2 separate regions of the Homo sapiens genome follow, and region 2 is linked to region 1. The links come from fine-mapping of genetic effects on gene expression. Tissue or cell type: blood mononuclear cells. Region 1 holds a variant in brackets; the other region holds the start of a gene. All regions are shown on one strand. Distances are from middle to middle.

The links. PIP is the estimated chance that this variant, and not a neighbour inherited with it, causes the effect. A credible set is the group of variants that fine-mapping cannot tell apart.
Region 2: it holds the start of NAP1L3, and the variant in region 1 is the best candidate, but not a certain one, in a credible set for the expression of NAP1L3 in blood mononuclear cells (TOPMed, PIP 0.78).

What each region holds. Positions count from the first base shown.
Region 1 is chrX:93,778,312-93,782,718 of GRCh38, reverse strand. No RefSeq gene overlaps it. Among named protein-coding and RNA genes, the nearest start is that of FAM133A, 110 kb to the right of the region's middle. The variant A/G (reference allele first, on the strand shown) is at 2,044.
Region 2 is chrX:93,671,865-93,676,271 of GRCh38, reverse strand. NAP1L3 (nucleosome assembly protein 1 like 3) reads left to right here and starts at 2,694. Exons shown (of 1, transcript NM_004538.6): 1 at 2,694-4,407. The coding sequence starts at 2,968. FAM133A (family with sequence similarity 133 member A) reads right to left here and starts at 2,066. Exons shown (of 4, transcript NM_001171109.2): 1 at 1,998-2,066; 2 at 1,520-1,591.

The DNA.
Region 1 (4,407 bases):
GTACCTAGGGTCAAGTAGGCCAAGTTTATGGTGGCACCACATTCTACATCCTAAACCCTAACTCTAACTCCACAAGAATTAGGAAGTTTCTTTTCATTTAAGACAAAAGGGTGATAAGGGCAAATAATTTCCAAATAATATTTTCCCTCCCAAAACACTCCTTTAAAATCATGCAGTGACTTTCTATTGCACTTGAAATAAGACCCAAATATGTCCCTACGTAATCTGTCCACTACCTCCCTTCTCTGACTCTATATCACACCATTCTTTCCTTGCCCTTTATGCTCCAGTCACACTGCCCTTCTGTTTCATGAACACACCAAACTGGCCTTTGCCTCAGAGCCTTTGTGCTTGCTCTTCCACCTGCTTGTAATACTGTCCTCACTTTGCATCACTCAGAGCTCGGGTAAAATATCATTTTTTCCAAGAGACCATCCCAATCCATCCTACCTAAAATAACCTCCAATCCTGTACCCAGCCCCATCATTTTCTGCCCCATTACATTGTTTTATTTTCTTGCTACCAGAAGCTGTTCAACAAATGTTTGTAGACTAAAGTAACACCTCACAGATTAATCCTTGAAACATCTCCACTTCAAAGTGACTGTGCAGAGGTCTTAGACAAATGCAGAATCTATTTTAGGTTAAAATGGATGAAAGTAAATCGATAATTTATATATTCCCAAATCTCTGAATATGTGGTATCAAAAGAATCAGGATAACTAGTTGATTTTTTAAAAATTTACCCAATAGATATGACTGTAAAAACTTGGTTTGCCATGATTCTTACCAAGAACTTTCTTCCTTTGGATGTAGAAAAGGGAGAGGAAATGAAATCAAGCATCCTCCCTTGAGAAACTCTTTATGTATCAGAATGTAATAATCTCACATCTGCTGGTCACTTAACATGTTGAATGACACTGAATGGACAGAGGACATAAGTTTTACCAATAAATGGCTGGGAAGACTTGGACAAATCAATTCAGTGTTTCTATCTGTTATGTGGGAATGAGAGTTTGTGTTTTGTCTGACTCACTGACCTATTGTGAACTTCAAATTAAAGAATGCTTATGAAAATACAATATACTGTCAAGTCCCATGGAAATGTAAAGTATGGTTTTCACAAAAGTGTTGTAATTTCCCAAAAGGAGAACCAGAATGTATTTGTACAATATTCAAACATTTCTAGAAAATGAGTGTCTTTGTTGGCTATCAGTATTTAAACCCAGTCAAGATTCCACCTGATCATAAATTTAATACATTCTCCAGATCTATATAGACATATTAAATAATTATTTTGCAATAATAAGAGCAAATTGGAACTGCTCACCTTATGTATAGCAGACCACAAATTTCCCTGCTAAGATTATGATAGATTCACTGGGCTAAGAGACAGGACCAGCAATGAAGGATCCCCAATAACTGAACAGATCCAGTTTTAAAACAGGCTCTGTTATAAACAATAACAGTAGTATGATGGGAGAAGCAATAGAGGTCCTAGAAATACCTTCTCTTTGTCTTAAATTTCACACTTTGAAGAAGTACTTTTCACCTATATTAGTACATTTTAGTTTGGTTGAGGCAATCCTTATCTTCTTGGGTGGGACAACTCACTAACTCCTTAAGACTGTAGCAGAAATTAATTTATCTGATTAACTTAACCCCATCTACTGCTAATTAGTGAAAAATGCTAATGGAATCTCTGAGGAAGCCAGAAAAAGAAGATTAGATAAATTTTGCCTGTGTAAAAGATGTCATGGAACATGTTATTCTAATTTGAACAGATGAGGCTTTAAAATGGGCCCTGAGCAGCGAAGAGACAGCAAAGAGGATATCTTAAGGGACCACAGAAAGTCAATATGACCATGCAACTAGCAGGCAGATATTCAAAAATAGTTCCACTCTACTAAACCCACAATGTAGCTAGACTTCAATGCAAGCATAAGTTAATTAAAACTAAAAAGACTTTTGAAAAGCCCTTTCCTTATTAAGCTTTGATGCTATTTATACACAAAGTAATTTTTAAAAATTATCTTAACTAGAT[A/G]TTCACCAAAACAAAATATTCTAACTTGTCCTTGATAATTACAAGTATATTTTTGTCTTTTGCTAATGAAAGTATTCTTATTATTGTCTACTTCTATGAATTCTGGTCAATTCTGATCTAATAAAGAAGAAACGTTACAGCAGAAATTCAATTAATCCAATGCATTTTAACAATTAGAGAAATGAACCTAATATAATTCTTTTATAAATTATCTGACTCTAATTTCATTCCAGTTGTTATTTTATTGGAAACAATCTTCCCAATCATTTTTGCTTATCTTTTAAAAGAATTCTGCATAAACTAATTTAAGATGGCCCACATTTTATTAAAAAGTAAATCTTGAGGGTCTAAGGAGGTCATAATTCTACCAAACTTCATGATTTTCTGGAAAGAATATTATAAAGGCCAAAGGTCTTGCTCAGCATCTCCTATAATGAAGCTGGTACAACACTATGACGCTTCCCTGGGTGACAATATTTTGCTTATTATTTATCAATATTTCCAATATTTTCTGCCATAAAACAATGTTATTGTTTCCTTTTTGACAGGTTTTTACAGAGGCTGTAGTAATGTAAATGAATGATTATAAGCCAAGGAAATCATTAAACAAATATAAAACATTTTAATATAAAATAAAGGGGTCCAGGCTTGGTGGCTCAAGCCTGTAATCCCAGCACTTTGGGAGACCGAGGCTGGCAGATTGCTTGAGCCCAGAAGTTTGAGACCAGCCAGGGCAACATGGTGAGACCCTGTCTCTACAAAAAATAATAATAAAAATAGCCAAGCATGGTGGCACGCACCTGTAGTCCCAACTACTCAGGAGGTTAAAGTGGGAGGATCACTTGAGCCTGGGAGGTTGAGGCTGCAGTGAGATCGAGATCGTGCCACTGCACTCTAGCCTGGGTGACAGAGTGAGAGTCTGTCAAATGAATATGTACATATATATGTACATAATAAAGAATATGTATCAAAAGGCATTCATCCTAAAAAATTAAACAAGTGGAAAAATATGTATGAACAAGAATGCTCATTCTGGTGCTGTTGGTAATAGTGAAAAAGTGGAAACAATCTAAATATCTATCTAAAGGTAATTGGTTAAATAAATTATCTCATATCTATACAATGAATGGCTAAGCACCCATCAAAATTTCGTATCTAGATATATACCTATTAAACTGAAAAGATGCTTATGATGTATTCTTTGCAAAAAAAAAAGGAAAGCATGATTGTTGGAAGGTTAGAATGACCCTTGTGAAAGAAAAACAAGCAAATAAATAAAGCATTTTTAAGAGAAATTTGGTAATGTATACCAAAATACAAAAATAATGAAAGGTACTTCAGTAATTTAAATCCTGCTAATAACAGTAAAAATACTCAAAACCATTTCAATGTCCATCAGTAGGAGACTGATATGGTTTGGCTGTGTCCCCTTACAAATCTCATTTTGAATTGTAACTCCCACAATTCCCATGTGTAGTGGGAGGAACCTGGTGGGAGGTTATTGAATTATGGGGGTGGGTCTTTTCTGTGCTGTTCTCATGATAGTGAATGAGCCTCATGAGATCTGATGGTTTTACAAATGGGAGTTTCCCTGCACAGGCTCTCTCTTTGCCTGCTGCCACGCATGTAAGACGTGCTTTGCTCCTCCTTGCCTTCTGCCATGATTGTGAGGCCTCCCCAGTCATATGAAACTGTAAGTCCATTAAATCTGTTTCTTTTGTAAATTGTCCAGTCTTGGATATATCTTTATTAGCAGCGTGAAAACAGATTAATATAGAGACTGATTCTATACAATGGGATGCTAATGCAGTTATCAGCATCAGAGATAAGAAGGCAGACAACATAATTAAAAATAGGCAAAATATTTAAATGGACACTCCTAAAAAGAAAATATATAAATGAATAATAATCCCTTGGAAGGATGTGCAATATCAGTAGTCACCAGAAAATGCACATTAAAACCCCAATGAGATACATTAACACACCTACCAGAATGCTTCAAATTTAAAAAGACTGAAAATGCCAAGTTTTGGCAAAGATGTAGAGTAACTGTAACTCTCATTCACTATTGTTGAAAATGGAAAATGGTGAAACCTTAATGAAAAACAGTATGGCAACACCTTATGAAGTTAAGCAAACTACCTAGCAATTCCCCTACTTGGTATTAACCATGAGGAATGAAAACACGGCCACAGAATTATTTATGTATGAATATTCATATTATCTATGATAGCCAATAAATGAAGCTCAACTGGTAAAGTGATAAAGAAATTGTAGTATATTCATACCTTGGCATGCTACTCAGAATCAAAAATAAATGAAATATTGATGGTAGCAATACTATAGATAAATCTCAAAATCATT
Region 2 (4,407 bases), 110 kb after region 1:
GTATTGCCTGACTTTATCAATGAACACATATCATCTTCACAAAATGTAAAGTTATCTTAAAACCGACTCATTAGTTGTTTGCAGCAAACGTCTGACCAATGGATCAGAAAAGAATTTAGAGACAGACCCAAGCAATTTATTTAATGTGATCAAAATAGCATTTCAAGTAAGCAGGAGATAGAAAGATTACCAAATAAATGGTACTAGAAGAATTAGCTAGCTAATAAAAATAAATATTTTAAAAATCTGGATCCCTAACTCATGACTGACTCTAAAATACTAATTCCTAATGCTACAAAGTTTAAAACATAAGAGCATACATTTTTTTAAATCTCCATAATTTAAAATAAAAATAGTAAGTTTCAGAACAATATTTATGGTATAACATCAATGACGTAAATCATTGTTTCTATAACATATGTTTTGATTAAAATTATTCAACGAAAGGATATGCACTTAGTAAATTTCATTCACCATTATACTACAATCCTCTACCACATTTGCCCGGCATATGACAAGCACAAAAATATATTAGTTGAATAACAAAAAAATGAACTTTATGCACTGTTGGAACTGTAAATTGTGATAATAATTCTGCAGAGAGTTTGGCAATATGTATACAATAATAATTTCATAATATGAAATGATCATCCCCAAGCCATCCATTTCTAGGAATTTATCTTATGACCAATTTTCACAAGTGCATAGAAATACATGCTTTAGGTATCCAGGGACACTTTGATTATAGCAGGAAAATAGTATGTATTTAAGGGGAGAGATGGTATAGAAATGGCCACCCTATAACAGGAATCTGGTCAAATAAATTAAGGCAATTATTTCCATGGAATATGCACTTACTTAAAAATAAGATGTCGATCATTTGCCATGAAAATATAGCCATTAGTAATTGATAAATTAAATGAAAAGATTACAAAACATAATATGGTGTCACATAGATAAAGCAGTATACATAAATAGGCAGGTATGTATATGCACAAGGAAATTTCTGGAAGGAAGTGCATCAAAATGCTAGTAATTCTTATCATTTGGTGGTTAAGATTTTGTGTTTTTACTACTGTTGGAATTTTCTATATTGTTTTATCTTTGCAATGTTCACAGACTTTGACAATTAGAGATAAACAATAAAAGTAAATGCATTTATGAAACAGAAAAGCGTTTCCTAACTTTTAAAAAACGTGATTACATGACAAAGCACAAATTCTATAAAGATTAATCTAACTTTAATACATTTCCTCATTTGAAATGAATAATTTATCATATTTCATATTTTAATTTACCACTTGTATTCTATGACCAGGTTTAGATAGTTAATGCGGTTAAGTATGTAATTGTCTACATTAGTATGCCAAATTACCTCTGTGGATTTTCCTGTTTCCATAGAATTATCAAGATAATTCTCTAAAATAAATCTTTAAATGACTGTATCCTGTAAACTTTTATTCAGATGGAGATGAGTAATTTTTGTCATTCTTTAAAATGTGCTAAATATGATCCTTACCTTTCAATGAAAAGTAAATACTCGTCTTTTTTATTGTACCAAGGGAGTTGTTCTGTAGCAGAAAAAAAAATCCTGTAAATAAAAATAACAAATACTCGTTTTTAAACTTCATTTTGCAAAAGTTTATTCACATATTACTGGACTTGTAAATCATACTATAGTATGGCTAGAATTTTACAACATTAGAAGGAAATTGGTGGCAGATGACATCGCATACACTGACAGAAGATGCACATTCATTAGCACAAATTCCCCCTCCCATCCCACTGTTCTTGGAATTGAAACCTGCTGCACAAAAGTATAACGCAAATCATTTGCTTTTTAACAATACTACCTAACATTTAATACCTCTTTGTTTTATCTACAAGGTTGTTACAAGCATTGAGAAGGGCTACGTGGCAAGTTAGCAGCAAGGTTGGGGTATATAATATGCCAGCCTAAAAAGAGAAATATAATAAAAATGGTGTAACTGACTCACGGCAACATGGGTTCGCAAACCTTGTAGATGGATATAAACCAGGCTTGCCAAACATCACAGACAGCACTTATTAAATCAGCTTCGTGGAATGCAATACGCCTGCTGTCTAGTCCCTCCCTCCTCTGCCAATAACCGACTCTCCCCTTTTTTATCCAGTGTAAAAATGCATGCTCATAGAATATTTAGAGAAAATCGTTTTGTTTTTAAATCGTCCATAGTCACACTACCCAATGACGCCATTTGGACCATTTTCATTCAATTTTTTTTTTTTTTTTTTTTTTTTTTTACAGCTTTTTGTCAAGAGACCCGTGACAAACTAAACGGGAATTCAGGGTGGGCGGATGGGAGAAGGAAGACACGCCTCTTTTGCCCTTGTTAGGAACTATGGCTGGTATTTTTACCTCATGTCTACGCTTTTTTTTCTTTTTTAATTATAAAACTATAAATATAGACTTTTTGGGGGGCAGGGGGACACCTTCCAAGGGGTCGCACCTCAGCCAGCGAGCGGCGTCTGGGAAGGTGGGCGGAGCCAGGAGTAGTGGCGTTTGGCCGTTCGTTGGGCGTACAGTTTGTCAATTAAGGTGGACCAGCAAATGAGGAGCGAACTAAAGGCACACTGGGAACGAAATTAACGGGAGGTCTGACTGCAAGGGGAGGGGGCTCGCGATCTAAAACGAGAAGAGATCTCGGGGTCTCATACTGCGCCATTCGGCTGCGGTACATCTCGGCACTCTAGCTGCAGCCGGGAGAGGCCTTGCCGCCACCGCTGTCGCCCAAGCCTCCACTGCCGCTGCCACCTCAGCGCCGGCCTCTGCATCCCCAGCTCCAGCTCCGCTCTGCGCCGCTGCTGCCATCGCCGCTGCCACCTCCGCAGCCCGGGCCTCCGCCGCCGCCACTCAAGCATCCGTGAGTCATTTTCTGCCCATCTCTGGTCGCGCGGTCTCCCTGGTAGAGTTTGTAGGCTTGCAAGATGGCAGAAGCAGATTTTAAAATGGTCTCGGAACCTGTCGCCCATGGGGTTGCCGAAGAGGAGATGGCTAGCTCGACTAGTGATTCTGGGGAAGAATCTGACAGCAGTAGCTCTAGCAGCAGCACTAGTGACAGCAGCAGCAGCAGCAGCACTAGTGGCAGCAGCAGCGGCAGCGGCAGCAGCAGCAGCAGCAGCGGCAGCACTAGCAGCCGCAGCCGCTTGTATAGAAAGAAGAGGGTACCTGAGCCTTCCAGAAGGGCGCGGCGGGCCCCGTTGGGAACAAATTTCGTGGATAGGCTGCCTCAGGCAGTTAGAAATCGTGTGCAAGCGCTTAGAAACATTCAAGATGAATGTGACAAGGTAGATACCCTGTTCTTAAAAGCAATTCATGATCTTGAAAGAAAATATGCTGAACTCAACAAGCCTCTGTATGATAGGCGGTTTCAAATCATCAATGCAGAATACGAGCCTACAGAAGAAGAATGTGAATGGAATTCAGAGGATGAGGAGTTCAGCAGTGATGAGGAGGTGCAGGATAACACCCCTAGTGAAATGCCTCCCTTAGAGGGTGAGGAAGAAGAAAACCCTAAAGAAAACCCAGAGGTGAAAGCTGAAGAGAAGGAAGTTCCTAAAGAAATTCCTGAGGTGAAGGATGAAGAAAAGGAAGTTCCTAAAGAAATTCCTGAGGTAAAGGCTGAAGAAAAAGCAGATTCTAAAGACTGTATGGAGGCAACCCCTGAAGTAAAAGAAGATCCTAAAGAAGTCCCCCAGGTAAAGGCAGATGATAAAGAACAGCCTAAAGCAACAGAGGCTAAGGCAAGGGCTGCAGTAAGAGAGACTCATAAAAGAGTTCCTGAGGAAAGGCTTCAGGACAGTGTAGATCTTAAAAGAGCTAGGAAGGGAAAGCCTAAAAGAGAAGACCCTAAAGGCATTCCTGACTATTGGCTGATTGTTTTAAAGAATGTTGACAAGCTCGGGCCTATGATTCAGAAGTATGATGAGCCCATTCTGAAGTTCTTGTCGGATGTTAGCCTGAAGTTCTCAAAACCTGGCCAGCCTGTAAGTTACACCTTTGAATTTCATTTTCTACCCAACCCATACTTCAGAAATGAGGTGCTGGTGAAGACATATATAATAAAGGCAAAACCAGATCACAATGATCCCTTCTTTTCTTGGGGATGGGAAATTGAAGATTGCAAAGGCTGCAAGATAGACTGGAGAAGAGGAAAAGATGTTACTGTGACAACTACCCAGAGTCGCACAACTGCTACTGGAGAAATTGAAATCCAGCCAAGAGTGGTTCCTAATGCATCATTCTTCAACTTCTTTAGTCCTCCTGAGATTCCTATGATTGGGAAGCTGGAACCACGAGAAGATGCTATCCTGGATGAGGACTTTGAAATTGGGCAGATTTTACATGATAATGTCATCCTGAAATCA